Linked DNA regions of Homo sapiens: regions 1 and 2 are each linked to region 3. Evidence: fine-mapped expression QTL. A gene starts in region 3. Each other region holds a variant in brackets. All regions are shown on one strand. Distances are from middle to middle.

Region 1 (10,011 bases), 130 kb before region 3:
TCCCCAATGCTGGAGGTGGAGCCTATGGGAGATGTTTGGGTCATGGGGACAGATTACCCATGTACAGATTAATGCCCTTTCTTGGGGGTGAGTGAGTTCTTACACTATTAGTTCCTAATTGAACTGGTTGTGAAAAACAGCCTGGCACCTCCCCTCCTCTCTCTTGATTCCTCTTTCGCTGTGTGATCTCTGCACATGCTGGCTCCCCTTCACCTTCTGTCATGAGTGGAAGCAGCCTGAGGCCCTCAGCAGAAGCAGATGCTGGTGCCATGCTTGTACAGCCTACAGAACCGTGAGCCAAACAGGCTTATTTTATTCATAAATTAACCAACCTGAGGTATTACATTATGGCAACACAAAATGAACCAAGAGAGTACCAAACCCTATATATACAACATTTTCTTTCCTATACATACAAACCTGTGATAAAGTTTAATTTATAAATCAGACACAGTAAGAGATCAACAACAATAATAAAATGGAACAATTATAACAATATGCCAGGATCACTACTCTTGTGCTTTGGGACCATTGCTAAGTAAAATAAGGGTTCCCTGAACACTAGCACTGAGATGTTGCAATAGTTAAATTGATAATGGAGATGGCTACTAGGTGACTAACGAGCAGGTAGCATATAGAGCTGGACAAAGGCATGATTCATATCCTGGGCTGGATGAAGTAGGACAGCTTGAGATTTCATCACGCTACTGAGAATGGCATGCAATTTAAAAATTATGAGTTGTTTATTTCTGGAATTTTTCACTTAATATTTTTGAGCCGTGGTTGACCACAGGTAACAGAAACTGTGGAAACTGTGGATAAGGGGGCACTACTGTAATTATGAAGCTTCAGACCATCAGAGACAAAGATAAGGCCCTAAAATCTGTAGGGGGAGGCAAGGCAAGATCAGGAATCAGGATGGCATCAGACTTCTCAAGAAAAGCAACATTAGATGCCAAAACCCGTGCAGCAATGCCTTCCAAATTCTAAGAGAGAATTACTTCTCTATCCCTAGAATCCTGTACATGTCCAAACTATCAATCAAGACAGTTTCAGAAATACAATGTCTTGAAATCCTTAATTCCTATTTACCCTTGGGTATATTCCTCCAAAATGAGGGAATTATCCAAAAAAAAGGACAGCATGAGATAAAGGAAGCAGGTAACGCATCCCAGGAGATAATGCCCAGAGGACACCCTGGATGATGGCAAGCGAAGCCCCAGGATGGCACCATGGGGCTGCCTGGAGCCCCACCAGTCCAGGCTGGAGCAGGAGTTTAGAGAGCTCTTCCGGGAAGTGGAGGTGGAGGCTGTCTCCAGAAAAAAAATGCTGTTGACATATGACCGGATGAGTTTGGTCATGTGACACACTGTCACTTTTGAAGGAAAGCTAGTGATGACTTAGTGATAAGTATTAATACATAAAAAGCTAAATAAGTGGAGAAAAGGTGATAGTTGTTAGCTTCAGGAAAAACAAAAAGTTGTATACGAAAGAAAATATTACTATAAAATGCACTTCATGGCCTGTGACTGATGATCACGCGGTCATAGAGCATAAGCCGTGATTATTGATTTAAACAAAATTACGATATAGCTGTATTTGAAGAATGAGGGGGCATGTGGGAGGAAGATTTAAGAGACCAAAACCTCAGTTTCCACATGGAGAGTCACTAGATGGGATCTAAAATTTAAACAAAATCCAGATATGGCCATATAAGTGTGTAATTGAAATATATGATGATAAATACCAGAAGAAATAGCTTAAAGAGTTAAAAGTGGCTGTGACTACGCAATGGGGATCAAGGGGCAAGAGGGTGCTAATTTTCATTATAAACTTGTAGAACCACTGGACTTTTAAAACCATGTGTGTGTATAATTTTGTCTTCTTTTCATTAAATGTTGCAAAATCAGCATTTGAACCCAATTCTGGTCTGAATCCAAACCTTATTCTATTATCTCAATTTTGCCTCTCAAAATAATTGCTTAACATTTATTTGCCTTTAGATTTTAATTTTTTTGAGTCAATTTCTGATGTGTGCTGTTGACTCAATAATCTACAAACTCCACATGTGTATGGTCCGTGCTTATTTTGCTGACCATTGGATTCCCAGTGTCCAGTGGAGCATCTGGAAACAGTTAGGCTCTCAAAAAACATTTGTTTGTCATTAGGTCCATTTTCTGAGTCTCTAAATTTCAATTCTTGAATATCCACATCCCTCTTAAAGACTGTTTCTGGGCCAGGTGTGGCGGCTCACACCTGTAACCCCAGCACTTTGGGAGGCCAAGGGAGGCAGATCGCTTGAGCTCAGGAGTTTGAGACCAGCCTGGGCAACATGGTGAAACCCCATCTCTTCAAAGCATACAAAAATTAGTCAGGTGTGGTGATGTGTGCCTGTAGTCCCAGCTACTTGGGAGTCTGAGGCAGAAGGATCATCTGAGCCTGAGGTGGTTGAGGCTGCAGTGAGCCGTGATTGAGCCACTGCACTCCTGCCTGGGCGACAGAGTGAGACCCCATCTCAAAACAAACAAACAAAAACACAACAAAAAAAGACTGTTTCTGTGCTGCACTCAGATGTGAACACCGTAATAGATGCATATGCAGAAGTGAATTGCAGTTGTATGATCCCCTTAGAGCATTCAGGATCTGAATGATGGGAGCTCGCTGCTTAAGACCTTTTGATTTCCCTGAAAAAGATGCCATTCCGGGGCTGTTTTGTCTGCACCATGCAGGCTGCAATTCCCTTGCTGGCTGGCTCCTCTTGGTGAGGTTCTCCTGCAGGCAGTCTGGTCTAGAATTGAATTACACTAGATGTTATCTTATACTTTAACTAAGTGGCTGAAGCGTCCTTTCTTTGCTTCCTCCTTCACTCCTTTTCTCCTTTCATCTTGTCCTTCCTTCAGTCAACACATTTGAGCACCTACTACTTCGTAGGCACAGGGAAGGAGATGTGTGGGGAGAAACCTGAGAAAATAAAAGGTGATTAATATTGTCCTTACCCACAACTAAGTGAGGAAGCTGGCTATCCAATCAGCTTTCCAATGAAAGCGAGGACAGAAGGAAGTAGGAGCTTAACGGTGAAGCCTGGGATGCAGTAACAGGGGTGGGAATGCAGAAGGAGCATGTGTTCCAACTGGGGATCAGAGAAGACTTGATGGGCAGCTTGGGACTCACAGGAAGAGAGCCAGGGCTCTGAATGTGGAGTAGACAGGACAGAGGCCCACAGAGGCCTTAGGTCCTCCATGGCAGGACCCCAGTAAACTTGTAATACGACTGAACAAAATCCTCAGAAATGCTGATGGGATGTGGGGACAAACTGGGGTGGCCCTACTGCCATCTAGAAGAGGAAGCAGAAATAAGGCCGCAGGCTTCTGCTCAACTGGAGCCCACTCCTGGGCCTCTGAGTGAGGCCCAGCTGTTAGGGTCAATTGGCTGCAATCATCCAAAACTCACTGAGATGACCTCAAGTGGCAGAAAGAACTTGTTCTATGGTTGGAGGGATGTCTCACAGAGCCCACGAACAGGGAATTTGAATCAGGGATGGGGACATTGCAGGAACCCTGCAAGTTCTTTCTCCCCATTGCTTCCTCTGCTTCCCCTGCCTGTGTCAGGTTCTTCCTCTGAATCCCAGTCTGCATGGTAGAAAATAGCCTCTGAGTTTGTACGTGGATAGAGCAGCTAGACAGGGACTTGGGGAAGGGATAAGATATACCTAGTTTGAGTGCCAAGTTCTGGAAGGTCGGAGGGGAGGCCCCAGTGGGAAACACATGCTTCTTATGGAGCCAGAATTCATCTAATTGAGTTGGAGTTTGCGAAACCCCTTCTCTGCAAAAAAATACAAAAGTTAGCTAGGTGTGATGCTATATGCCTGTAGTCCCAGCTACTTGGGAGGCTGAGGCAAGAGAATCCCCTGAGCCCAGGGAGGTTGAGGCTGCAGTGAGTCGTGATTGAGCCACTGAACTCCATCCTGGGCAACAGAGCGAGTAGCCCTGAAGTCTGTCATCTTGGCCCTGATGTCTTCTTTGAGCGAGTTTATCTTGTGCTATGATGTTCCCGTGAACTCCAGGCCACATCAATAGGCCCCTCCACCTTGGGTGGGGGGCTGGCCTGGGTAAGCTTTAAGGATATCTTCAGAGAAGTCATTTACTTGTGTTGGAACAAAAATAGTTCTTGCATAGCAGCAGGGACAGAACTGACTTGGAGGTCGGAACAGGGTCCCAGTTCCCCCTTGGGGGTCCCAATTCCAGTTCCTCTTCTTATTAGCTTTGTAACCACTACCACCCTGCAGCTATTGAGTGCTCACATTGTAGCCAGTACACATTGAAATGACCTGAGTGTAAAATACACGATGAATTTTGAAGATTTAGTACAAGAAAATGTAAAATATCTCATTACTATTTTACTAGTAACATAATATTAATGTTAAATGATAATATTTCAATATATTGGGTTAAATAAAATATATGAGTAAAATCAAGTTTACCTGTTTCCTTTTATTGTCAATAAATATGGCTATTAGAAAGATTAAAATTACAAAAATGGCTCACGTTCTTTTGGTTTTCCCCTCTAGACTCTAAACCTAACAGATTGCCTTTATTGAAAAGAACAAAATCACACAGTCTTGGCACAACTTTAGAAATTTGGGGAAAGATGCGTATGAAATCTCAATATCTTAGCCTCTGTTTAATGTTAATTACCACATTGTCCTTCAGGGATGCAAATCCTGGCCCAACCTATAGCTGCCCCTCCCTCTGCTCTGCCTGCTGGCAAGACGGCCCAGGCCATGGGGGACAAGATGAGGACAATGATTCCTGACACAAGGCTCTATGCACCCTTTGGGCCTGGTGATGTTCTCATGGGGACCTGCAGGCCATTCCGCTACTCTGAAAAGCTTGACGGAAAGAAAATGTACAGCTTCCCAAGCACTGCTGCCTTGGCTGATGGGATCATTGCTTCTTGGCTTGGGGCCAACAGCAATCCAGCCAGGCAAGGTTGGTGGTCTCAGCTCGTTAGAAGCTCTAATTGGCAATTGTTAATCTCCTTGATTAATAGAAATGTTGAAAACAAATTAATTACTCATTAAAATGTAATTGGATAGACAAAAACTTTCCAAATGTGCTATTCATAGCGAGTGTGACTGAAAGATGTCCTTGGCAATGGAGAGTTTGGGAACCACTGACAGAAGCAATTGTATTCGTCAGGGTCCTGGTTCTTGCATGTTCCGTCTCCACATTTGGTTGGTAGGTGATGGAGTTCCCCTTCACTTTCCTCCAGGGATGTGTCCTCGACATGTCCATCCCCTTGAAATTCATAGAATTTTGAGATTTGGAAGACTTCCATCATGTCGCCACTGGGGATGATGAGCAACCTGTCATGGCTGTCACAGCCCTGTGACCAAACCCCTCGCCCTTTGTTCAGCCCCACTTCCTCCTCAGCTTGGAAG[G/A]CACCATGCTTCAAACTATCCCATCTCTGAGAACTCACAGTCAGAGCGGCAACCACTAATTCCTCAGGTTATGTGCAGCTCTGCAAGCCATTGCTCCACTCTCAGAACCAGTTCTTTACCCTTCCTGAGACTACAGGTGCCTGGGCCCCTCCTGGTGCATTAACATATCACCCTCCACTCAAGCCGCTGGCTCCAGCTCCCACGCTCAGGGAGGCAACATTGACTTTATGAGAGCATCTACCTTATTGGAAGGATGTGATAGAATATATATGTATATATGTACATAGACATGTGTAACATAAAATGAGAGAATGTGGACAAAGCTTTCTATAGTGTCTGGTCTGTAGATGCTCTCAGCAACTGTTAACTCTTGTTGCTTATTACTGACTTGTTCTTTTCATGTGCTGTTTTCCCCTCAACCATTGAGACTGCTCAGAGAAAGTAAGAAAATCAGACTGATTGGCTCCGCTACAAAGTCATGATACTTACTCCCCTGCCGGACTCCCCATGGTCTGGCAATCACTGTGTGTGTGTGTGTGTGTGTGTGTGTGTAAAAGTTTTATCCACAAATATGTGTATCGCTATAATTCACGTACCATACAATTCACCCATTTAAAGTGTACAAACCAATGGTTTTTAGAATATTTACAGAATTGTGCAACCATTACCACAATCAATTTTAGAACATATTCATGATTCTAAAAAGAAATTCCATACTCTTTAGGAGTCCTTCCAGACCTGGGCAATCACTAATATACTTTTTTTTTCCTCTTTGGATGTGCCTATTACAGACATTTCATACAAACGAAACCATGCAAGATATAGTCTTTGTGACTGGCTTTTCTTCAGTTAGCATAATGTTTTCAAGGTTCACCCATCTTGTAGAATGTATCAGTACTCAATTCCCTTTCATGACTAAATAACATGCTGTTTGTGAACATACTACATACTGCTTCTTCATTTATAAGTTGATGGGCATTTGGGTTGTTTGCTCTTTTTGACCGTTGTGAATAATGCTGCTATGAGAATTTGTGTACAAATTTCTGAGTGGACTTATATATATATATCTTTGGTATGTATCTTTTGGATATATACTTGACAGTAAAATTGTTGGACCTATGTTAAGTCTATATGTAACCATCTGAGGAACTGCTAGACTGTTTTCCAAAGTGATCAGTCAGTTTTCCATTCCCACCAGCGCAAATGAGGGTTCTGATTTCTCCATATCTCACCAACACTTGTTATTATCTTTCTAATTATAGCCACTCATGTATGTGAAGTAGTGTCTTATTGTAATTTTGATTTGCATATCCCTGATGGCTAATAATGTTGATCGGCTTGGCAATCATTTTATTCATCATTTTCTTATTATCTCTTGGATTCCTATTGTGATTATTACAAACCTTTTCCAGACTCCAGAAGGTCCCAATCCCTCCTATCCTCTTATCTCCAGAAATTACATCTCCCCTGCTATTCTGAAACATCTTCATGAATTCATTGATTATTCAACAAATATTTATGGAGTCTTTATGGCACATTTTCATGCCTGGGTTATAAACTGGATAGGTCATGTTCTTTACCGTCACCCCTCATTCGTTCATAGTTGGTGGTGCCACTTACAGTCTTGTCTTATTGGACTTTTCTGCTTAAAATGTTTCAGTGGCTTCCTAGCGCTTTCAGGATAAAATGTAATGGCAAAATTCATGGCAACCATAAGAACTATGAGTGTGGGGCTAGCCCAACCCCGTCCATGCCATCCTGTCTGTCTCACATTCTCTACTACCCTCTTAGGTCCACAAACACATAATTCTTTCATGCAACCCTGCCTTTCTTCCCCACTGCCCCGCTCCCACCTGCAAGCTTCTCCAGGGCAATGGTGAGTCTTATGCATCCTTGTATTTCCTACAACCCTGGGACAATACTGGGCACATTGAAAGTACTCAATAACTGGATGTCCATTGAGTTAGTAAACGAAGAGATGGCCAAGTAAATAAATGAAGGAAGGAAGGAAGGAAGCTATGCAATTCTGCAAAGTAGTGCAATTTATTTCCCTGACTCCTTCTCCTGTTCCTCTTCCTGAAATAGAATAATCAGATCTTCCCTAATAGGCCAGCGAGAAAGGCTACAACTTTTTAGTTGGCTGAAGTTAGGGTCTATTCTGACCCTCATTTCAAACTGTCCAAACAGAATGATATGCCGAGCCAGCTGAACCGAGGAGGTTTCATCTTAGCCAGGTATTTATGACAAATGCTACTACTCTAAGTAAAGTTTTAACGCAAGACATGTGTGTATCTATTTGTACTCTGTAGGATCTTAAGCAAAATATCATAACATTTAATATAAAATGCCCACAATCTGAATATAATCATGTTAAACAGTAAGATTGTGGAGGCTTCATTGAAATTTGCGAGGAAGGCTGGAGAGTTAGAAGTGTCTAGTCACAGGGTGCCTTCCCCTTTCACCCTCATGTAGGCAGGACAAAGGTCTCTCTCCACTCCAGATGGGAAAATGTTTCTCTTCTGGATAGTTTTGTTGAGGAAGGGAATGGAGGAAGTGGAAGTGGGCTTGCAGTGGGGTATCCGGCCCCATAGGAGACAGGATACAGGCGGTCAGGCTCTCTAGCCCCCTCAAATGCAGGCTGCTTTCTGTTTTCAGAAGTATATGTGGTGGCCCATATGATAAAACAGTGATAAATGCATTGTCCTGAAATCTAAACGGGAGAGGGAGGAAACGCCTGGCATTTATGATATGTCTGTCTGCTTATTCACTGAGAACATTGTTTGGGGAGGATAATAAACACCATGGAGTGAGTGTTTTCAGAGATCTTTGTGAAGATAATGTCTGATGAAGGGCTAAGACACGATGCTCTGAAACAGGACACAAGCTCAAGGCTGGGGTTGAGCCTGCCCTCAGGTCTTCCCCTCAACTTCCCTCCCTCCCATGTCAGGACCTTCCCAGCTGTCCATAGTCAGGGGATCACACCCCCAGCCTACACTCCCTGGGGGATTGGCCTCATTTCTTCCCCCCTGCCCCTACACTGTTAAGGGCCCATGGCTCCCCCAGGATGCCCACTCATGGTCACAGCTGCCCACGGCTTCTTCCTCCCTGACTCCTCCTCCCCTTCCAGATCTTCCCTAATAAGCCAGTGAGAAAAGGCTACAGGAGACAGCCTCTCTGCTCCTCTTCTTAATTAAGTACTTACCATGTGCCAGATGTCTAACTTATATCATTCATTTAATTCTAACCACCTTAAAAGACAGTGAAAATGACAATTTCCCCTATCTTACAGATGGAGAAACTGAGGCTCAGGGAAGGAAATTGAGTACTCTCATAATGAGTAGCCGTGGGATTTGAACCCATAGTCTGATGCAGAGACCTCATCGATTCAGTATATTCTATTTCCTTCTTGCTACTTTTCAGATGTAGAAGTCTGGTGCAACAGAGATGCATAAGGCAGTCTTATCCTTGAGGACTTCTTGGTTACACAAAAAGTAGTGAAATGCTGGGAGAGGCACAACAGCAGTGATGGGAGGGGAAGGCGTCTGGGCATGGCGGAGGGAGGAGATGAGCAAAGACTCTGCAGTGGATGCTGCGACGTGCCACCCACATCCTCCTCACCCAGCTGCAGGGAGTGATGGAGGATGCCGATGGCCCACAGGAATTGCCCTCGACTGGAGTAAGCTGCCTCCCCAATCTTAGGTCCCTTCCTCAGGGCAAGCCTGAATCCAGGGACTGGTTAACAGGTAGGTACAAAGGCTCAGCTCCCTTCTCCACACTGAGGACAAATCTGAAGAGCCATCCTGCTCCAGAGCTCCCTATGGAACTGGCTGAGGCCTCTGGTGTGGCTGCATCACAGTTCAGCTCCTCCCTCTACCAGTCCTGCCATCCTCACTCCAGGACAGGGAGTCTCCTAAGAGTACTCCCCAAAAACCCTACTGCACACAAGTCCCCACCTCAGAGTCTGTGTTCCAGGGAACACAAGCAAAGACAGGCATGGAGACACATAGCACATTCTGGAAAGTCGAAATCGTCCCAGTTACTAGAGTGTAGGATGTAGGTTGGGTGCAGGTGGCTTCTCCTGTCTTTCGATCTAAACATCCAAGAGGGGAGCTGTATCTAGTTTTCTTGGGAACCTAACCTGCAACTCTGCCCAGTGGCAGAGGCTTGACCTATAATAAGAGTAAACTGCTTAAGATTTGGAGGAAATAACAGTCAATAACTTGAATAAAGAACAACAAAGAAATGTTTGGGAATCACATTGTTTAACAATGCTTTGGGAATGTCAAAGCTAAAAGGTAGCTTTGGAGAGCATCTGCTCCAAAGCTCTCAGTTATTATGGGGGAGTGTAAAGCCCCAGAGGGGTGATAACTTCAGGTCAACACAGATATGCCAGAGCCCAGGCTCCCTGGCCTGCATTTGATGCTCTTTCCACCACGCTGTATGTCATACAGGCCGAGAACTGTAAACCTAAGCCCTCGATGGTCTTATCCACCTTTGTTCTCCTGCAGTGGCTTGTCCCTAGGAACACAAATCTGCTCTTGAAGGAGGCTGCCACTCAGCTTCCCAGAAAT
Region 2 (10,011 bases), 73 kb before region 3:
CACTATCCTGGCAGGCAGTCTAGAAGCGCAGAAGGGATAGCTCTTTTAAGAAAAAAGGGAGGCCGGGCGTGGTGGCTCACGCCTGTAATCCCAGCACTTTGGGAGGCCGAGTCAGGTGGATCACGAGGTCAGGAGTTCGAGACCAGCCTGGCCAATACGGTGAAACCCCATCTCCACTAAAAATACAAAAATTAGCCAGGCGTGGTGGCAGGCGCCTGTAGTCCCAGCTACTCGGGAGGCTGAGGCAGGAGAATCGCTTGAACCTGGGAGGCAGAGGTTGCAGTGAGCCGAGATCGTGCCACTGCACTCCAGTCTGGGCGACAGAGTAAGGCTCTGTCTCAAAAACAAAAAAAAAAAAAAAAAAAGAAAAAGAATAAAAAGAGGAATATCTCTATTCTATAAAGCTCGTATTTTGTTTTCTGATTTCATTGTGGCAATTTGGGAAATACAGAAAAAATAAATAAGAAAATAGATACCCATAGCCCTATCACATAGTGAAAACTATCATTCAGATTTCCTCCTGGTCTTTTTCCCCCCAGTGCATAAACATATATTTGAACCAATGCTTATACATATTTTTCAAAATGGGATTATACTATACTTACTATTTTCAAAAGCTGTTTTTTTTCCCATGTGAAATGATGTATTATAATACTTTTCCTTGGAAGGACTCCATTTTAATCCATTTCCATCCATCCTAAGCAGTGGCAAGTGGTGTTGGCAGCAGCTATGGGATGGTATGGGAGAGGTTTTCAGTCCCTCCAAGCTACAGGGGCAGACCTCTTGGCCACCATGGGAGACCCACAGTCCCTCACAGCACAGGGTCCCAGACTGGCAGTTGCTGTAGCCTAGGACAGCTACCCCAGTGCTTAATGATAAGGGGATGCCCCAGCATGTGGTGCAGCCCATGTGTTTTCACGCCACCGGATCTGGTTTTGTTTTTATTTTCATCCTCACAGAAAACCCTCGTGGATGTGACTTTGGAAAACAGCAACATTAAGGATCAAATCAGAAATCTGCAGCAGACGTATGAAGCATCCATGGACAAGCTGAGGGAAAAGCAGAGGCAGTTGGAGGTAGCGCAAGTTGAAAACCAGCTGCTAAAAATGAAGGTGGAGTATAAAAGCCTAGATTTATTTTCTATGAACTTTTCTCCTCTTTACTTCTCCCTTTTCTCTTCCCATCTTCAACCTTTCCATTTCCTTTTCTCCATTCTCTTCTTCATTGGATTTTTTTTTTTTTTTGAGACAGAGTCTCACTCTGTCACCCAGGCTGGAGTGCAGTGGTACAATCATGGCTCACTGCAACCTCCGCCTCCTGGGTTCAAGCAATTCTCGTGCCTCAGCCTCCTGAGTAGCTGGAATTACAGGCACGTGCCACCTTGCCCAGTAATTTTTGTATTTTTAGTAGAGAAGGGGTTTCACCATGTTGGCCAGGCTGGTCTCGAACTCCTGACCTCAGGTGATCCGCCTGCCTTGGCCTCCCAAAGTGCTGGGATGACAGGCGTGAGCCACCGTGCTTGGCCCAGTTTGGGGCTTCTCCATAAATGCCCCCATTGGGCATGCCTTTCTTGGCCTCCAGTCCCTTCAAGGGCTCTTTAGACACTCACCATGGTGCTGTTGTTATGTAACTGAGAAGACGCTTGGGATGCCCACAGATCTGGGACGTCAGAAGCCTTGGAGATCTCTTCCTTCACTGTTTAGATTTTCTTTGAGGTCCCAAGGCCTTTCTGTTTGGCTTGACAATAAAGAGCTGAGGGGCACACAAATAGCTGGTACTTGGGCTGTACCCCAAGTACAATATTCTCAAGAAGAAAATTGGTGGGTGACTAGGGACACTGGGGAATGTCCCATTTGGCCCCCTAGGCTGGGAGCATTCCTTAGCTGAACTTCTAATGCCCTAGAGGCATTAGTGCCCCTCCCAAATTTAAACTGTGGATAGACTTCCTACCCGGTGACAGGAGCAGATCCATGAATGGCTCCTGGAGGGCACTTAATAAATTATATCTTGGATGAATTCCTTTTTATGTAAGTCTGTGGTTTGAAAATTTTGCTCAGCACAGACTTAGGCTATCTTATGAGTAGCGTATCCACATAGTTTATTGCTCAAAGCAGAATATGTGAGGGAGTGAAAGGTGGTACTATTGGTAATTTAGTTAGGGAGACAAACTGGGAAGTGTGGGCCCCTTCACAGGGGTAGGCTGGGTGGGGAAGAGGGGCTGCCGGTCCACCGCCCGGTCTCTGTATTGCCGCCCTGGGGATCTGCTGCCAGTTCACTTGGCCTGCCACAGCCATGGGACAGATCATCTCCTCTGTATGTTCACTTCTAATAGGGCAGCTCTTCTTTTCCGTGTAAGAGTTACTTTCTCAGTAAGAGTTACTTGGGGGGTGAAAAAAGTTTATGTTGCTAAAAAAGCCTGAAATTACTGATTTAAGTAATTTTTTTCAGCTTAGGGGATTTATTCAATCATTCAGTCCACAAATATTTATTGAGTGTCTACTCTATGTGTGTGTCCTGTTCAGTCCTGTTGGTTCCAGAGGTGGCCTGTCACCAGGCATCTGGGGACATCATTAGGCTGCTTGGCAATCTGGCTGCTTCCCTGGAGTCCAGGCCTTTAACTCCAGCCCACAGTTGCCTGTTTTAGAGACTGATGCTTGTTTTCATCCTGACAGTGGAGTTAAAAAGGTTTCTCCTACTCCTCCTATTTTACTCCCCAAATTGGGAAAAAAAAAAAAAGCTTCAGGAACTCAGGGTATGTTACATGACCTGGATGCAGAGTGAATGGGCCTCCAGGGACAGAGCCCTTCCAGCAAGCTGTGCGTGCACTGCAAATGGAGCACACAGCACACAGGGTCTCTCTCAGCTGGTCATAAGCTCTGCTCAGGACTTTCCACTTTGGAACTTCTTGGTGCCAACACTTACCCAGTGATGAGAAGGGAGAAGTCAAGGGCGTCAAGAGAGACTTGTCACATCTTGGAAATAACATCATGTAACCTATTGAGTTTGAAGAATGCTTCCCTTTTCCAGAGTTTAGGTATGCAGCAAACTCAGCTCTCTGCAATAGGCGATAACCTGGAAGGAGGGGATGAGAGCAAACCTTCTGCAGCATAAAATCAATGGCGGGAAGTCTGTGTGTGAGAACGTGGCCTGGCAAACAGGAGGCACCAGCCACCACCAACCTAAGCCCTGCCCACCTGCAACTCCACTGACTTTTTCTCACCTCCTAAGCCAGGCCTGCTTCAGTACTAGGGGTGCCAGCTTAGTGTTCCCCATGCTAGGTTGGAATGTTTCCAAAAGCAACATTTAGGAAAGCACAAGGGTATGGAAAGGGTGAGTCCAGATTTCTCCTTTGAGCTTAGCTGGTCTTACCTAGAAACTGGCTTGGCCAATGCAACTGATGAGATTGCGTAGAGAAATAAGTTTCTACCTTTTGAAAAAGTCACTCATGTGGAGCATACCTTTGTCCTGAGAATGCCCCCAAAATTCGTGTGAAATGCCACTTTTATTTTTCTGTGGCTCTGCTCACCCCTCTTCCTCCCTTTCCCTGTTAGGTCTTGCTGTGTCTCTCTGCTGCAGAACCCAGTGGATGGGCTCACTACCTCTGTGAGTCCCCACATGAAATGTGCAGTGGAAGCTGCCAATTCCTCTGGGCCCTGCAAAAGCTGTCGTTCTGAAATGAGTCTCGTTGTAGGTGGAATCGTCCCAAGAAGCCAATGCTGAGGTGATGCGAGAGATGACCAAGAAGCTGTACAGCCAGTATGAGGAGAAGCTGCAGGAAGAACAGAGGAAGCACAGTGCTGAGAAGGAGGCTCTTTTGGTGTGTGTGTTGTAGCTGCCGATGTAAACTTACCGGGAATTGTTGGTTCATTATTGTTGGTGATGTATACGTAGTAGTGTTTATTCTTAGAGGTGGGTCAGTAGACTCAGCCATGGGTAAGGGATCAAGGAATTATTCATCTGCTCATTCACTCCCCTCCCCTCTTCCCCTCTGCCTTTATTCATCCCCGTCTCTACTCAGAATAGCCCCTTGTCTCTGTCTCTAAATACACACCTTTTTCTAGCTCATCTGACAATTTGCCAGCATCTAAGCAAACCCTGGGCTTGCCCGCAGCTGTGCCCTCCCTCCCTCCATTTGGTTCTCTCTACCTGAAATTTCCTCCTTCCCTATCTTTGATCTTGCCTAAGCTCCCTAAAAGCCTTAAATGCCACTCTCTCCATGCCTGGAGTCTCTTCCAGTCATGGAGCCAGAACCATTATCTGTCCTTAGGAAGCTCACTCACTCTCTCTCTGCTTTTACTTTGGAATTCTTTTATACCTGCCATTAGAGTGGGGCTGTGCGTCTCACATCTTGGCTTTTCCAGGAGATTATAAGTTCCTGAAGGCGGGGACTCCATGTCTGGCTCATCTGTGTCCGTAGAGGCTTAATACATGTTCTGATGATTGACTGGGTTTTCTTGTTAGTAATGAGCTGATGTATTGCATTATGGGAGAAGGATCTGGGAATTCTGCATTCAATTCCAGATCTGGTTCTAATTCCCTTACACTTCTGGCAAATACAGTGACATTCTGAGCATCTACTCAATGTTATTAAACATTTGTAGGCCTCTTTTACACCTTTTGGATATAAAGACTTAAGGGAAAAAAGGGAAAAAAATGTAGTGAGGCCCATTAACCAGCCACATGATGTATCTTTATTCATAGGTGAGAACCAGAACCGTGAGGTTGAGTTCATGATCTGTGAGACACTTTCAGGTTCCAAGGTCATGTTTTAAAGAGAAATCGTGATCTAGCAAGGCCTGAGCTGATTGGATCCCGGTGAGTAGCCTCGGTACTCCATGCCTGTACTTAGGAGGGTATATTTCTTTTGCAGGAAGAAACCAATAGTTTTCTGAAAGCGATTGAAGAAGCCAATAAAAAGATGCAAGCAGCAGAGATCAGCCTAGAGGAGAAAGACCAGAGGATCGGGGAGCTGGACAGGCTGATTGAGCGCATGGAAAAGGTAGGACACAGCGTTGGGCCTATTGCCCACTTGCCCAAACTTTTCCCTGTAGGTCCATCTGAGATACGAGAGGCCCTGGATATGGATTCCTCTCACCTCCAAAATTTGCAATTAAAAAAAAAAAGACAAAGCTATAAAATAAAGTATAAGGAAGTCCAACAACGTTCTCATTTTTCCCATGATAACTATTTTGATGCTTTTAAAAAATATTACTTGTGAAATTCTTTAGAAAAATTAATATTTTAGCAGCCTTGCTTTGCTGGTGCCCCAGGTGTGAACTTAGTTTATCCATTGAATTATCAAGCCCTATTTAGGTGTTACATCAACACAGCAGCCCTGTTGTTTCTGGGGCATGTGTCTCAAGGGTTGGCTTTTCCTTGACACGCTGGGGACTTGAGAGAGTAGGGAGGCCCCATTTCTCTAGGTGTTGTAAGCAGGCTGGTGAGTGTGGTGGGGGAACCTGAGGAAGGCGGGAGCTCAGCTGGGATAATGAAGCCTGTCTAGTGAAAGGGAAGAGGCCAGGAATTAAGTAGGAAGTGGAGGAAGGGGAGGAAGTGGTGGGAGAAAGGAAAGAGGAAAAGAAGGAAGAGAAGGAAGAGAAAGGATGGGTGACCTTTAGCAGGTGACGGCTGACTTCTGGACCCAGGAGTTCAGGGCCAAGTCTGTGGCTG[G/C]TTTCTGGGAATGGCTCCCTGGCTGCATATGAGTTTGCAGAGAGCAGTGACCTGCCAAGACCCTGACATTATTAGCACCCTGTGACTCATTCGGGATGCCAAGAATCTCCAATCTGATGATGGAGGCAGAGGTGGGGCAGCAAGAGCAAGGTCACTGTCAGGCTTCATGTGATGCTGAGAAGAGGTCGCCTTAGCTAATGGTGTTTGCAGCATAAGCCCCTGTACTGTCCCCTCATAAGGCGAGGTGTCGCCACTATGGGAACTGCATGAAATTCAGTTCTGTGGAGCTTCAGAGCTCACTGGGTGCTTCGTTTTAGCTCTTTAGCTTTTTACTTGGGAGAGACTTGGGCAAACTAAAGAGTCAATTACAATCTCCCTTCTACCCCCTGGGAAAACAGAATCCCATCTTTTATTGAAGAGTAGGTGATTGGCTTAGTCAGGACTAACATTAGTATTGACCAGAGGGGGTGGTGGTGAAGATTGGGCAACAAGGGAGCTTTCTAGAGCTTGAGTGAGCTTCCTCCCACATTATTGTCCTCCTACAACAGCAGAAGATCCCAGTTAACTCAGATGCTCTCTCTCTGGGCAGCAGGTTTTTCTGCAGCGTAAAGAAGCAAGGTGAGCCGGCAGCATAGCAGGGTGGTCTGGGGGAGATGCCGTCATACAGAGAAACCACAGGTAGTGGTCATGAACATAGGCTTTAGAATCAGACAGTCTGGGGATTTGAATCTTGTGTCTCTTTGTAGTTGTTTGCACTTACTTGGTTTTTCCTAACTCAGTCTCCACTTCTGTAAAATGCTGATAATGGTACTTCTTATTCTTAGGGCTTTTGTGAGCAATAAATGAGAAAAATCCACGCCAAGTGCTAAGCATGGTTCCTCGTATATAGTAAGGGTTCGATCATTTGTGGCTATGATTTTTACTCTGTTACGAGGTTGCCTAAATGTCTACCCTCAGAGTCAGGTTGTCTTTAGCACGACCCATTTTATGCTTATCTTCATTGCTGTCTTGAGGTTCTGAAAGTTTCTTGTCTTTCCCCACTGATTTTCACATGGAGCCCTCATGTGGGATGAATGGGTAGAGCCAGGAAGCTGGTAAGGCCAGCCCTCCCTGCCAGCATTTAGGAAACACAAAACCTTCCCCAAGTGGTGTTGGCTTCTTCTTTAGTGATTGGAAATGTATTGTCCTTTCTCTAAATCTTCCTTTCCATTTAGGCTAGAGAAATGCTCTATTTATTGAACTAACATTAGGTAGGCCAATTTACACTGTTTCCTTTTCAGGGATAAATCTGTGAGAGCAGGAATCTGGCCAAATCGCTGTCTCACACTACGTGAACGGCATGTCCTAGGCAGGGCTGTGGCAGTGTACGTATCCTGCTCTCAGTTTTGGATTTTGCTCAAGGACAAACCATGTGCTTTTGAATGGCTTCTCTGCCATATGCCTTAGTTTACTGTTTCTCTTGCTGAGCACTGTATTTCAAACACCTTTTTTTCTGATCAGTAAAAATCTTTTAAGGAGTGTTCTCTACCAGGGACCCTTCTGGGGAACAGATAATAGTCTATGCCATAATCTGGGCAGTGGTTTCACAGGTGTTTACAAATGTAAGAAATAATTGTGCAGTGTACACTTAAGATTTATTGTACCTCAATTTAAAACAAATTTTAAAAGTGTGCTGTAAGTTAGACCTTGCTCTACTTTATGACAGCCTTTTTCTTTCTTGTTTTTTGTTTTTTTTTTCTTTTTGGAGGGAGGCATTCACTTGTGAAAGCTTTTATCACTGTTATTTCGGGGCTAATGTAAAACTTCCAACCACATAGGGGCAGGAGGAATGTTCTGCTCAGGCCAGGCCATAAGAATGTGCATTTGCTGTAGAGATTTAAAAACAGTAACAAAACCCCAGTCAAAGTTGATCTACCTTTGTTATTTTAAATATTTCAGAGATAATATATTCTTCCTGCTTAAGGTGGACTGCTTCCCCACCCCTTTGGCCTACCTCTTGGTATACCACTGCTTATAGCTTCAGAAGTTGTGGCAGTTAAATTTTCAAAGATTTGCTTTTAATAATTTGGTAGAAAAGAGGTTTGGAATCTATGTAGCTAGTAAGAGTTTGCTGGGTGGAATTTCCGAACATAAAGATGAGGAACATTAGTTCTTAGAGAAGGACCTAAAGTAAAATAATCTCCCAATTAGTGAGCGTTATTTGATAAACTTGCATTTTAAGGAAATTTGTTACACTAACATCTGTAATGTATTTTTAGCACAATTTCGGTTATGACAGGCACCATGTTTTTATGAACATTTTTCAGCTTTGTCCAAAGAAATGATTCCAGACTCTTTTTTGGGCAAACTTCTAAATATACATATATATAGCAAAGTGTACAAAGTGCACGGCTTAGTGCGCGTATGTTTCCTATTGCTACCATAGCAAATTTCCACAAGGTTAGTGGCTTAAAACAACACAAATGTATTATGTTCCATTCCTAGAGGTCAGAAGTGCTAAAATCCAGGTGTTGGCAGAGCTGGATTCCTTTTGGAAGCTCTAGAAGGGAATGCATTTCCCTGCCTTCTCTAACTTCTGGAGGCCACCTGTACTCCTCAACTTGTGGCCCCCTCCTGCAGCTTCAGAGGCAGTAGCAGAGCATCTTCCAGGCTCCTTCTCTCTGATTCTAACCCTGCTGCCTCCTCCTCCTTAGAAGGGCCCAACTGGATAACCCAGGATCTCCCCATTTTAAGATCTTTAACTTAATCACATCTGCAGAATTCCTTTCTCCATGTAAGATAACACATAGGATTCAGGAATCAGGACATGGACATCTTTGGAGGGCCATGAATCTGACCACAACATATTTTTACAAGTGAATACACCTGTGTAAACACCACAAGTTAGAATATAGGATATTGCCAGAATCCCAGAGCCTCTTTTCTTGATGATTCAGAAAATAATAAAGAATTTTGCAGTATCACAAGCCACCAGTTTAAAGTATTGATAATCAGTATTTGGGGCTATAAATTTTCACTGATCCTGGGCTGATGGAATACTTTGGAAAATGAATCTTGAATGGTTTTATTTAGGATGTTTTGTCTCTGACCCATAAATATATCTATAAATACACAACAACAGACTTGGCAGTTTTGAGCCTTGTTTGGGCTTTGCTGAGCAGGTGTGTAAAACCCAGGGGGTGTCATATAGACTTGGACTCCCTAGTGCTAGAATTGCTAAATAGACATTCTCTGTCAAACTTGGGATCCATTGATTAAAATATCAGTTTCTGTTTGTTTTAGGAACGTCATCAACTGCAACTTCAACTCCTAGAACATGAAACAGAAATGTCTGGGGAGTTAACTGATTCTGACAAGGAAAGGTAAGACGTAATGCCTTTCGTCTTGTAATGGATTTAGGTTGTGGACACGCTGTGTTTTTATGACCTCATTTGACCCTTACATTTTCATTTGTGTGGTTGTACCTTATTACAGACTTAAGCATACATAACATTGGGCTGAGAGTTTCCAATATGGAACAAGTTTCTTTGGAAGCCTCCAGCCACATCCTGCAGATCATGGCTGGTTGTTAGTGTAGTGGAACACATCAAATACTTTCACAAGTGCAAAAGTTTGGTCTATTAATGTTCTCCATGGCCTTGAACTCCACAGGATACACCTTGTTGATGAGAAAACTCATCAGCTGTGACTAATACCACTTGCTTTGGAAACCAATTTAAAACATCTTTCTTTGTTTCCAAACTTTGCTTAGTAAAACCTTGCATTATCCTCTGGCAGTGAGTATATAAAGCCCTACATGAAAAACACGGAATAGTACGCTGTCTGTTCTAGAAATCAAAATGCAGAGAGGCCATTCAGGGGTCTCTAGTGAAGGAAAACAAGGTTGAGATGATTTGAGTGTTTTGGGCAAGTGACTTAACCTCCCTGAGTCTTGCTTGTGCCACATGGAAATTCATCTTTAAACGGGGGAGACGGGTATGACGGTGATAACAGTGCCCATCTCACTAGGTTACTGTTGTTAAGAGAACTATTGGGCTTGCTGCCTGCCAAATAGTACGTGCTGAAAAAATACCCATTTTTCCTTCCTCATTTGCAATTTCAGAGTTTTCAAAGTTACAGGAGGCTTGCTAGTCATTAACATAGTGCTGAGGCAGAGATGGGGCACGGGAACTAGACCACCAGACCTTTCCTCCAGTGCCCAGCCCCAGCGGCCCCAGAGAACTGAAGAGTCCAAGCAATGTTGGAGAATAAATTGTGCTGTTGTAAAACAAAAGTATGAAATGTTTTGTGATGTGGCTTGCTCTGTTTGGATGTAGAGAAGGTCTTTCAACTTGTCCCACA
Region 3 (10,011 bases):
AAACTGGTTTCCAAAGAGGTTGTACTATTTTGCATTCCCATTAGCAGTGTATCAAAGTTCCAGTTGCTCTACATCCTTTACAACACTTGGAATGGTCAGTCTTTCTGGTAGGCATGTACTAATATCTCATTGTGATTTTATTATTTATTTTTTCTTGGATATAGAGTCTTGCTATGGTGCCCAGGCTGGTCTTGAACTTCTGGGCTGAAGCAATCCTTCCACCTCAGCCTCCTGAGTAGATGAGATTACAGGCATGAGCCACCATGCCCAGCTTCTCCATGTATTTTTAATTTGCATTTTCCTAATGGCTAATAACACTGGTCTTCTTTCATGTGCTTATTTTTCACTTATATATCTTCTTTGGTAAACTGTCTTTTCAAATCTTTTATTCCCTAATCTGGAAAGTGGTGCCCATCACTTCTACCATATTTATTAGAAGTGAGTCAGTTAAGTCCAGTCAACATTCCATGGGAGAGGATTACATTGGAGTGGGACACTGGGGGCCATCCTAGAGGCTGTCTACCACGTGTGGCTTCCCATTTCTTTTAGGGTAAAATCCAAACTCCATATCCTGGTCTACAAAGCCCTGCTAGATCTAGCCCCAGCCTTCCACATTGCTTTTTTTTGTTATTTGAACATGCTAAGCTCCTTCTCCTTTTACGGCCTTAGTATCTTCTCTTGCCTCTACTTGGGATGTTTTTCCATCAGATTTTCCCACAGTTGATCATTTGTCATTTGAAGTCCCAGCTTAAAAGTTACCTCCTCAGAAAACCCAACCTCAGTCACCCAATCAAAGTAGTCTACCAGTCACTCCTTATCAAATCACTCTGTACTAATTCTCTATGTGACTCTTAGTACTGATAGAATAAAAGTTTCAATGTAACAGGAAATTTCTTTACCTCATTCATCGTTATATCACCAAATCCTAGAATAGCGTTTCACTTGTGATAGACGCTCAATAAATATTTACTTACTGAACAAATGAATGAGATCTCCAAAGAAGCAAGAACAGATGGGATCCATAGTATAGCTGAAGGGATTAACCTTGGATAAAGTTCCTGTGACTACTGCTGTTTAATAAACGACCCCAAATTTAGAAAAGGCATAGTGAAGATGTCTCTGCTCCACAATGTCTGAGGCTTCAATTTGGATGTCGTGAAGGCTGGAAGTGACTGGACAGTTGGGGCTGAAATTATCCAAAGTTTTGCTCACTCACATGTCTGGTGGTTGATGCTACCTGTTGGCTGAAACTTCAGCTTGGGATGATAGCCAAAACATCTACGCAAATGCAGACTTCTTCATGGCTTGCTTGCTGAGTTCCAAGAGTAAGCACTTCAAGAAAGCTAGGTAGAAGTTGCATCACCTTTTGTCATCTAGACTAGAAAAATCACTTTTGCTCTAGTTATAAGCACGCCCAGATTCAAGGATAGAGAAGAATAACCCCATTTCTTGACAGGAGGAGTGTTAAACTCACATAGCAAGAAGAACACATTTAGGATGGGAAATATTGTTGCTGCCATTCTGGTCAACTCCAACTATATCATGGCCAGTTTTGTGGCCATTCATGCCCCAACAATGACAATCAAAGCAAGAAAACAGAGGAGAACAGCCTGGAAATTCTAAACATTTATGTTTATCAGTTTTACAATTGATTGTCAGTTTTTATCTTCAACTAGGTAAGGACAAGTGGAAATCATTCCCAGGTCTTGTTTTTGTTCAGTGTCCTTGTGTAGCTTCGTGGCAGTGGGATGTCTATAGGTCATCTTGGCAGCACCTCACGTGACTAATGAAATTTTCCTTTCCCTTAATTCTGTTTTGAATTTTCCTTCCTTTCAAACGCAGCCAAATTTATTAGTTTACTCTGAGAGCAACATTCAGGAGATTAATCCAAGTACCACTGGAAAAGTGATTCATCTTTTTAATGAGCACTGAAAAACACAAACAAAAAAACCCCAAAACACTTGCCCAGATTCATTTTTATAACGGATGGGCTCTTTGACAGGCAACTGGAATTCTTTAGCAGAGATTAGCTGTCTGTGGTTTGTGGGCTCCATTTCCTTTCAAGTGTTTGGTTCAGCTGCAAACAGGTATAACCTGTAGCACTCATTGTTTCTCTCTTTAGTCTTCATTTCTCCATTGTTAAATTTCTCCATTTTATATCTTCTTCTCTAGACACTGCTGTGAAAATTTGTGTCCTAGATATTTATTTTTTGTTTCATAAATTATAAAAGAATACTTTGCCTATTTTCCTTTTGAAGTGTAAATAGGCTGCAAGTAGTCTGCTTCTGTTGTAGAGTGATGTTTTCCACTTGCCATGCTTCCTGGTTACTGACAAAATTAGACAGTTTGTGCTTGGATGCTGGTGGGAATTTAGATCTGTATTATGATATCTTGAAGCCCTAAGCCATACTGTATAAAAGATTCTATCCCAAACCACTGAAAAATCTACACAGTAATGATGATTAATTATATAAAAAGCTTAAGATTTGCATATAAGAAACATTTCATTAAGAGAAAGAGGAATATGGGGGAAAGGTAGAGAAAAAAATATGAGAGAAGGAGATTGTGTCAATTACTACATGCTATGTTCCTGAGAGGAGACAGAAAAAGTACAATTATAGCTCCCTCACAGAAAGGACTTTACAATTTTGTTAGGAAAGGAAAAAGAAATCTCGATGCATAACACAATTAGAGAAGTATAATATGCTTCATGCAGTGAGGTTCCAACTTTAACTAAGCCCTATAATTGTGCTGAAAAGAAAGAGAAGTTTGGTTTGGAATAACATGGGAAGGTTCAGGGAGGAGGTGAGACTTCAGCCAAGACTTACAATTGGCAAGGGGAGAAGAGATAGCCTTCCACAAAAGGGTAACAGAAGGGGGCAAAATTCTGAGGCCTAAAAGAAAGGCATCCTTGCCTTGGGGACACCTGTGGCCTACAATCAGCACATGGGGAGTTCACTACTGTGGGAGAAATAAAGGCCTCCAGCTGGGGTCCAGGGGTGGGGTGAGGGAGGCTTGCGGGGTGCTTATCACTGTAAACCAAAAATAAAATTTGAAGGTCCGCCCTCAACCGTCTGAATGGACTTCCTCCTGTAGTCCAGGGTCCTCCAAATTTAACCTAAAAGACTGGCTTAGGCCATGATGGGAAGCTGAGGTCAGACATGCCTCATTATGCCCTTCTTTCTTTTAGAATCCAGGAAAAGCTACACAGCATTTAATATCAACACATATACCTTGAGTCTGATAAGAAACACAACTTACTTTCTCTGAAGCCTGCTAACTGGAGGCTTCATCTGCATGATAAAATTTCGGTCTCCACAAGTTCTTATGCTAACCTAGACATTCCTTTAAATCAATTACCAATCAGAAAAAAACTTAAATTTACCTATAACTTGGGAGCCCATCTTGCCCCACACCCGCTCTGCTTTGAGTTGTCCCACCTTTGTGGATTAAGCCAATGTTTATCTTAAATGTATTTGATTGATGTCTCATGTCTCCCTAAAATGTATAAAACCAAGCTGTGCACCAACCACCTTAGGCACGTGTTCTCAGGATCTCCTGAGGGCTGTGTCACGGGCCATGGTCACTCATATTTGGCACAGAATACATCTCTTCAACATTTTACGGAGTCTTTTTTTTTTTTTTTTGTCAGTACCACAGACAACCACCTGACTCGAGGACCTTACCTATTTCTCATTCAGCCAATGCTGCAGCACGTTATTAACGTCCTTGAAAGCAAGTCTTATACAGAGAAAACTTATTTTGATATATTAATGAATCTGATCAGAATGGACCAGATTGGGGGGATAGATAAATGGTTGCAATTGTGCTCCCTGGAATAGCTTTGGAGTTTACCTAGATCTTCTGTCTCTTTAGGACAGAGCTGCTTGTGTTTATATAGCATCTTACACAGGATTGAGACAACTTCAATTTCCTATATCAAAAAATCGGGGGAGGGCGGTGGGTTATGGGGGTGTTCAAACCTCCCAAGTGACATCTGCTGTGACTGCATGTCTTCCTACTCTTTCCACTGGGATGCACCTCTGGTAGCTGAACTATAACGAGAAGGTAAAAGCTGTGTCCAATACCTATTAAGCTGCCTTCTTCTCAACAGCTGGGGAGGTGGCGGGGGTGGGGGGGGGCGGAGGGAAGTCTTTTCAACAGTTTTACACATTTGGAAATAGGCCTAAAGTGAAGAAGGGGATTTTCAAATTGGTGTGTTGGAAAAGGGGCTGGGCTTTTGAGTTTGAAATCTGGTGCTGTCACTTACTGGTTTTGTGCCCTGGGAATATTTATTTCAGTTTTCATGCCTCTGTTTTTCTATAGGCAAAGTAGAAAATTCGAAAAGGTCCTCAACGAGTTTGTACAGCTGCTCCCACTCCCTCATCACCTCTTGTGGGCCTTTGGAAATGTATGTTGGAGGAGACATTTTGGATTGTTGCAATGACTTGGGAGTGCCATAGCACCTAGCAGGCAGAAGCCAGAAACACCAAATGTCTTAACAATGCTTGAGGCGGTGCTACAAATGAAGTCCTTCTCCAAATGCATTGAGCCCCAAGAAAAATCGCTGATTCTGAGGAACCTTCCAACTTTAACAATTTCAGGACGTCCCTAAGCTGAGCTAGGAGGCACCACGCACAGGCCGGAGGCACCACGCACAGGCCAGAGTCTCCCAAATCCTGTCCCGCACTCTCTCCCACCTTATTAATGGCCAGCTCATCTTTCAAGTTTCGACTTGAACCACTTCTCAGAGATATCTTCCCAGGTGCCCATCCCAACGTTACTATTATATCATAATTTGATTCTCCCTCCCCCCATCCCCCCGCCAACTCTGTAAACCCCAAGTATAACACAGGACGTTGCTATTTGTTGACTGACACATAGTGCTTGGTGAGGTCACGCTGGCGCTGAATACTTTTTGTATAAACCGACGAACAGCTGATGACCGCATGAATGCTCACACAAGGGGAAAGGGCGCCAAGCCAAGGAGCCGGCGTCATCCGACGTAACTTCCGCCCTTTAACGCTCCTGCGGACGCCCCCTTCTCCCAGTCCGTGTTTGTTTCCGGAATTTCAATAAAGCTCGATTCGGCTCGAAGAAGACCCCGTTCTTCCGGGAAAATGGCGACTCCCGCTCGTGCCCCGGAGTCACCGCCGTCCGCGGATCCGGCGCTAGTAGCGGGGCCTGCCGAGGAAGCCGAGTGCCCGCCGCCGCGCCAGCCTCAGCCCGCGCAGAATGTGCTCGCTGCCCCGCGGCTTCGAGCCCCAAGCTCCCGAGGACTTGGCGCAGCGGAGTTTGGTGGAGCTGCGGGAAATGTTGAAGCGCCAGGAGAGACTTTTGCGCAACGAGTAAGCTGGGGTCCCGCGGAGTCTCCGCCAGGCTCCTTCAGCTCGAGCTCCCTGGGCGCTCCCCTCCCCTCCCGCACTCTGTTCCCTTCCCTGGAAGGTGACTTTGACTCAGTCACATTCGCTTCAGTCCTACGGGCGAGTGGACGGAGGGCTTGCTGCGGCAGAGCCGTGCCTCTTCCTGGCCAGGCACGTATGCCTGCGAGGATAGCTCGGATTGAACGGCTACCTGGCGTTGCAGGGAGTTAGTAGCCCCTGGTCGGTTTTATTTACCCGGGGACTGTGGTGGTTCCATGAGTCTGCTTTCTAAACCCTTTTGTCGCCCGCACCCCTAACCCATAACAGATTGTCAGCTTCATCTCTGGATTCTAAGCTTACAGGAACCGTAGGAAATGGGAAGAGTGGGATATGAAGAGGGGTTTATTAGGCCGGGAAAGTTCGACCCTCATTCAGCTGGCTGGTTGAACGGATTTTAGCAAGGGAGCCACGTAATAAAAGTGATTTTGTTTTTTAGGCAGCTTTGTTCAGCAGCTTGTTGCAAAAGATGGTTTGAAGGAATAAAAAGCAGAAGACAGTAGAAGGATATTTTCAGAGAGACTTCCCACGAGACACTTGTAAGAAAGTGAGCTAGGAAGGGATTGGGAGAACTTTTAAGCATGGACTAATTTAAATGCAGTTGACAGAGATGGCTGAAGTTTCCAATCTATATGGAAGACCACTAGCAAAAATAGGAAAATTCAGGGAGAGGAATAGATCCAAGGTTGATTTTACTTAGGGTGTGCAGAGTTGAGAGGAGAGCAGGACAGACATTTGGTTAATCGAAAACCAAACACTTAAAAGCTGGAGAAGTAGTCATGAGGCTCAAGAAAGAGAGAACCCTGGAAAAATACAGAAAACAGGAATTTCAGCTGTAGAGTGTTGTTAATAGTTGAAATTGTGGGGATGAATGTAGTGTCAAAAAGAACAGAGGACTTAAGGTGTAATTTTTTCTTTCCATTTATTGTATAGTTAAAGAAAAGGGAATCAGAAAAGGAACTCTGTCATCCAGCAAAAGGGACAAATAAATAATTGGTTGGGATCAAGACATGTGTTTTGACCTTGTGAGAATAGGTTTTGAATGTATAGCAGTGAATTAACTTTTTGGTCTCAGGACTCCGTTATACTTTAAGAATTATTGACATCCCAAAGAGCTATTTTATGTGTTGTATCTAGCGAAATGTATTTACTTATCAGAAATACGTCTGAAGTCTTTAAAACATAAGCATACACAAGCACACATTCTATTCTAGAACAATGATGTCATCACATGCCATGTAGCCTCTGGAAAACTCCACTGTACCCATGCGAGAAAATGAGAGGGAAATAATATCTTAGTATTATTATGAAAGTAGTTTTGACCTAATAGGCCCATCCCCACACTCCACCCCATCCCCAAATTTTGGAGATTGCACTTTAATGACTGCTGGTTCTTGGAATGTCTTATGTGATTATTATATGCTTAAAATACTTTTGCTGAAATTCTAATTTGCTGAGACAAATGAGGCATATATTCCCTATTCTTCCTGCATTCCCTTGTTTTTTGGGCTATTTGGATAATGACCATTTTAATTGTTTTATTCTTGTTTTGGGGCAGTTAGAAATCAGATATTTGACTTAAAAATCAGCTTTTCTTTCTTTGAAGATAATGCCTTGCCTTTTTAATGTTATATCTCAAGTTAAAAAAATGGCTGTAATGTAATAGTATTCTTTTCCATTTGACAGAAAATTCATTTGCAAATTGCCCGACAAAGGTAAAAAGATCTTTGACTCTTTTGCCAAACTGAAAGCTGCCATTGCAGAATGTGAAGAAGTTAGAAGAAAAAGTGAACTGTTTAACCCTGTTAGTTTAGACTGTAAGCTAAGGCAAAAAGCAATTGCAGAAGTTGATGTGGGTACAGATAAGGCCCAGAATTCTGACCCGATACTTGATACTTCATCACTAGTTCCTGGATGTTCCTCTGTAGATAACATCAAGTCATCTCAAACCTCACAAAACCAGGGACTTGGACGTCCTACTCTTGAAGGTGATGAAGAGACTTCAGAGGTTGAGTACACAGTGAATAAGGGCCCAGCTTCCAGCAATAGAGACAGGGTACCACCTTCATCTGAAGCTAGTGAGCATCACCCGCGGCATCGTGTTTCAAGTCAAGCGGAAGATACTTCCAGCAGCTTTGACAACCTGTTTATTGACAGGTTACAGAGGATCACCATTGCGGACCAAGGTGAACAACAGTCAGAAGAAAACGCAAGTACTAAGAACTTGACAGGCCTTTCCAGTGGGACTGAGAAGAAACCTCATTACATGGAAGTGCTAGAAATGCGAGCCAAAAACCCAGTGCCCCAGCTGCGTAAATTTAAAACCAATGTGTAAGTACCCTCGGAAACAGGCCTGTAACAGGAACGTGATATTTGTTAAACTCAAAAATTTACGAGAAACTGGGTGTGGTGGTGCTTGCCTGTAGTCCCAGGCTACTCAGGAGGCTGAGGTGGGAAGACAGCTTTGAGTCCAGGAGTTGTAGACCAGCTTGGGCAATATAATAAGACCTTTTCTCTTAAATAAGTCAGGAGAATGCTCTAAGTTCCGTGGGCTTTGTATGAGAACTACTTGTAGTTAGGAAATAACATGTTGTGGCAACACTGAGACCAGCCTGGCCGGAGTAGAAGATTCATGTTGAAAAATATTTAGTTTTGAAACCAAATAATCGACAAGGTCTTTTAAAGCACATGGGGGAGTGTTAAATTTTAGGATGCTTAGCCAGTATTTCATAATAAACACAGAGTTGGAGAGAATTTATTATGACTTCTTTTTTTCAGAACCATTTTTTAGTGTACAGCTTTGATTAGTGTACTATCAAAGTGTACTCTCTTTGATTAGTCTGTGAACTAAGGGTAAAGCAATTGCAGGAGCTGATGGGCTTTCCAGCAGAAATTATTTGCATGCTCACTGTATGTAAGCAAGCAGCAGGTGTTGTGGGGACACAATTAAGTCAAGATTCTTAAAACTCCTTTGCCTTTTTTGATGTTAAATCTCAAGTTTAAAAACATGGCTGTAATGTATACATGTGTAATGTAATACAATACCATGTTCTTCAAGGAGTTTAAGAGCTACATGAGGACCCAAGGTTTACACACTTGGAAAAGAGTTAAGCTACATAATAATAACAGTTTCAGGGGGAAGGAAGCTGAGAAGAGGTTTGAAAAACTGTGAAAATAGATTCAGGCAGGATAGGCAAAAACTCTGCTTATCAGTTCCTTGCCATAAATTTGTTTCTGAAATTTCAGGAAAAGTAAAATCTTTTTGAAAATAATTGCTATTTACTTGCAGCAAATGTAACATTCAACTCAGGTAACTGGTACCTTCTTCCTATATTGTATTTACAAGTATGTAACATCAAAGTTAAATCACTACTACCTTTCTTTGAAAAACAGAAAACCTCTAGTGAAAAGTATCTAAAACATGCTTCTTTTTTGTTAGACTTTAATTCTACCCCAGCATTCATTTTAACCTCAAAACATTTTATTTCTGCTGTATAGAAAATCAGGATTATACTACATTAACGTGATCAAGTACTCTCTTGTGTACAGTGGGGTATCTTTCTTCACTTCCAGGATGACATTTTAGAAAACTAGAACCATCATCTAGTCAATAAATAAAACAAAGAATACATTAATCCCAGTTCTGTATTATGGTCATTTAGCTGGGAGTGGGAGAGAGGTAAGGGAATAGTGAAGAGGGCTACCAAGAATTCAGGAAGTTTAAGAGACAGGGAGCCTCCTGTATAAGTTAGAGGAGAACAGGAAAGGCAGGGCTTTGAGGAGTCCTTAGGCCATAGACAGGTAGGGATTGAGAGGGTTCCGTGTGAGAGGTGGCTTGGAGGTTGGAAGGTGGGGTCAGGTAGTGTCCTTTGGGTCCTTTCTGCTCTTCCTTCTGCATACTCTTCTGGCTTCATGTATCACCTGGATGCTGGAGGCTGACCCCTGTGCACCTCTATCCCAGATCTTCCCAGAACTTTAGGTTTGCATAGCCAATTAACCATGAAACTTGATCACTTGGGTGTTCCCAGGTACCTCAGCTTAATGATGTACAAAGTGGAACTGCAGTTTCTTTCCAAGGTGATTTCCATATTCCCTAATAGTGCCACCACCTTCTCGGTTTTCTTCCCCTAAGGTATCTTCGATTTTTCTCATCTCCATATCTGCTAGCCATGAAGACCTACTTATTTCTTTGATCTTCATCTCTATAATTGTTCTTCATCTTCTGTCGAAGTGAAGACTCTCATCTCTCTCGGGCTGTAATTGTGGCCCCTTCTACCTCTAGTCTTAACTACCAGTCTATCTCCACTGCTGCCAGAGTGAAATTTGTAAGATGGAAATCCGAACTTGTTACGGAGAACTCTTCATTGCAGTCTGGGCCTAGGCTACTTCCCAGCCCTCTTTCTCGCTGTCTTTTCTGTGTAGCCAGAAAAGCTGAGTCTGTCTACCTTCTGTACTTTCTCTCACTCCCCTTGCTGGGATGCACTTCTCTCCTTATTTACATGGGTAAGCAGTTATTATTCCAAGACTGTTCAAAGCTTTTTTGAAACTTTTCTTAGCCTCCCTGTCTCCCACTAGAACTGGCCATTTCCTT

Alleles and levels. Alleles are on the strand shown, and positions count from the first base shown. SD is a standard deviation of normalised expression in the study named.
For the expression in visceral fat of the gene that starts at base 5,107 in region 3, A is the high allele of the variant in region 1 and G is the other (moderate effect, 0.52 SD a copy in GTEx).
For the expression in skeletal muscle of the gene that starts at base 5,107 in region 3, C is the low allele of the variant in region 2 and G is the other (small effect, 0.14 SD a copy in GTEx).

The links.
Region 1: its variant is fine-mapped to the expression of POLR2M in visceral fat (GTEx, PIP above 0.99). The same link has a PIP of 0.9 or more in subcutaneous fat.
Region 2: its variant is fine-mapped to the expression of POLR2M in skeletal muscle (GTEx, PIP 0.97).

Annotation. Positions count from the first base shown.
Region 1 is chr15:57,570,565-57,580,575 of GRCh38, forward strand. No RefSeq gene overlaps it. Among named protein-coding and RNA genes, the nearest start is that of GCOM1, 16 kb to the right of the region's middle. The variant G/A (reference allele first, on the strand shown) is at 5,441.
Region 2 is chr15:57,628,743-57,638,753 of GRCh38, forward strand. It overlaps GCOM1 (GCOM1, MYZAP-POLR2M combined locus), which reads left to right. Exons shown (of 17, transcript NR_104371.3): 6 at 960-1,112; 7 at 3,692-3,817; 8 at 4,871-4,999; 9 at 8,953-9,032. MYZAP (myocardial zonula adherens protein) reads left to right here. Exons shown (of 13, transcript NM_001018100.5): 6 at 960-1,112; 7 at 3,692-3,817; 8 at 4,871-4,999; 9 at 8,953-9,032. Among named protein-coding and RNA genes, the nearest start is that of MYZAP, 42 kb to the left of the region's middle. The variant G/C (reference allele first, on the strand shown) is at 5,671.
Region 3 is chr15:57,701,608-57,711,618 of GRCh38, forward strand. It overlaps POLR2M (RNA polymerase II subunit M), which reads left to right and starts at 5,107. Exons shown (of 4, transcript NM_015532.5): 1 at 5,107-5,348; 2 at 7,107-7,751. The coding sequence starts at 5,236. It overlaps GCOM1 (GCOM1, MYZAP-POLR2M combined locus), which reads left to right. Exons shown (of 17, transcript NR_104371.3): 13 at 1-107; 14 at 4,327-4,765; 15 at 7,107-7,751. RefSeq lists an enhancer at 5,002-5,221 and a silencer at 5,542-5,591.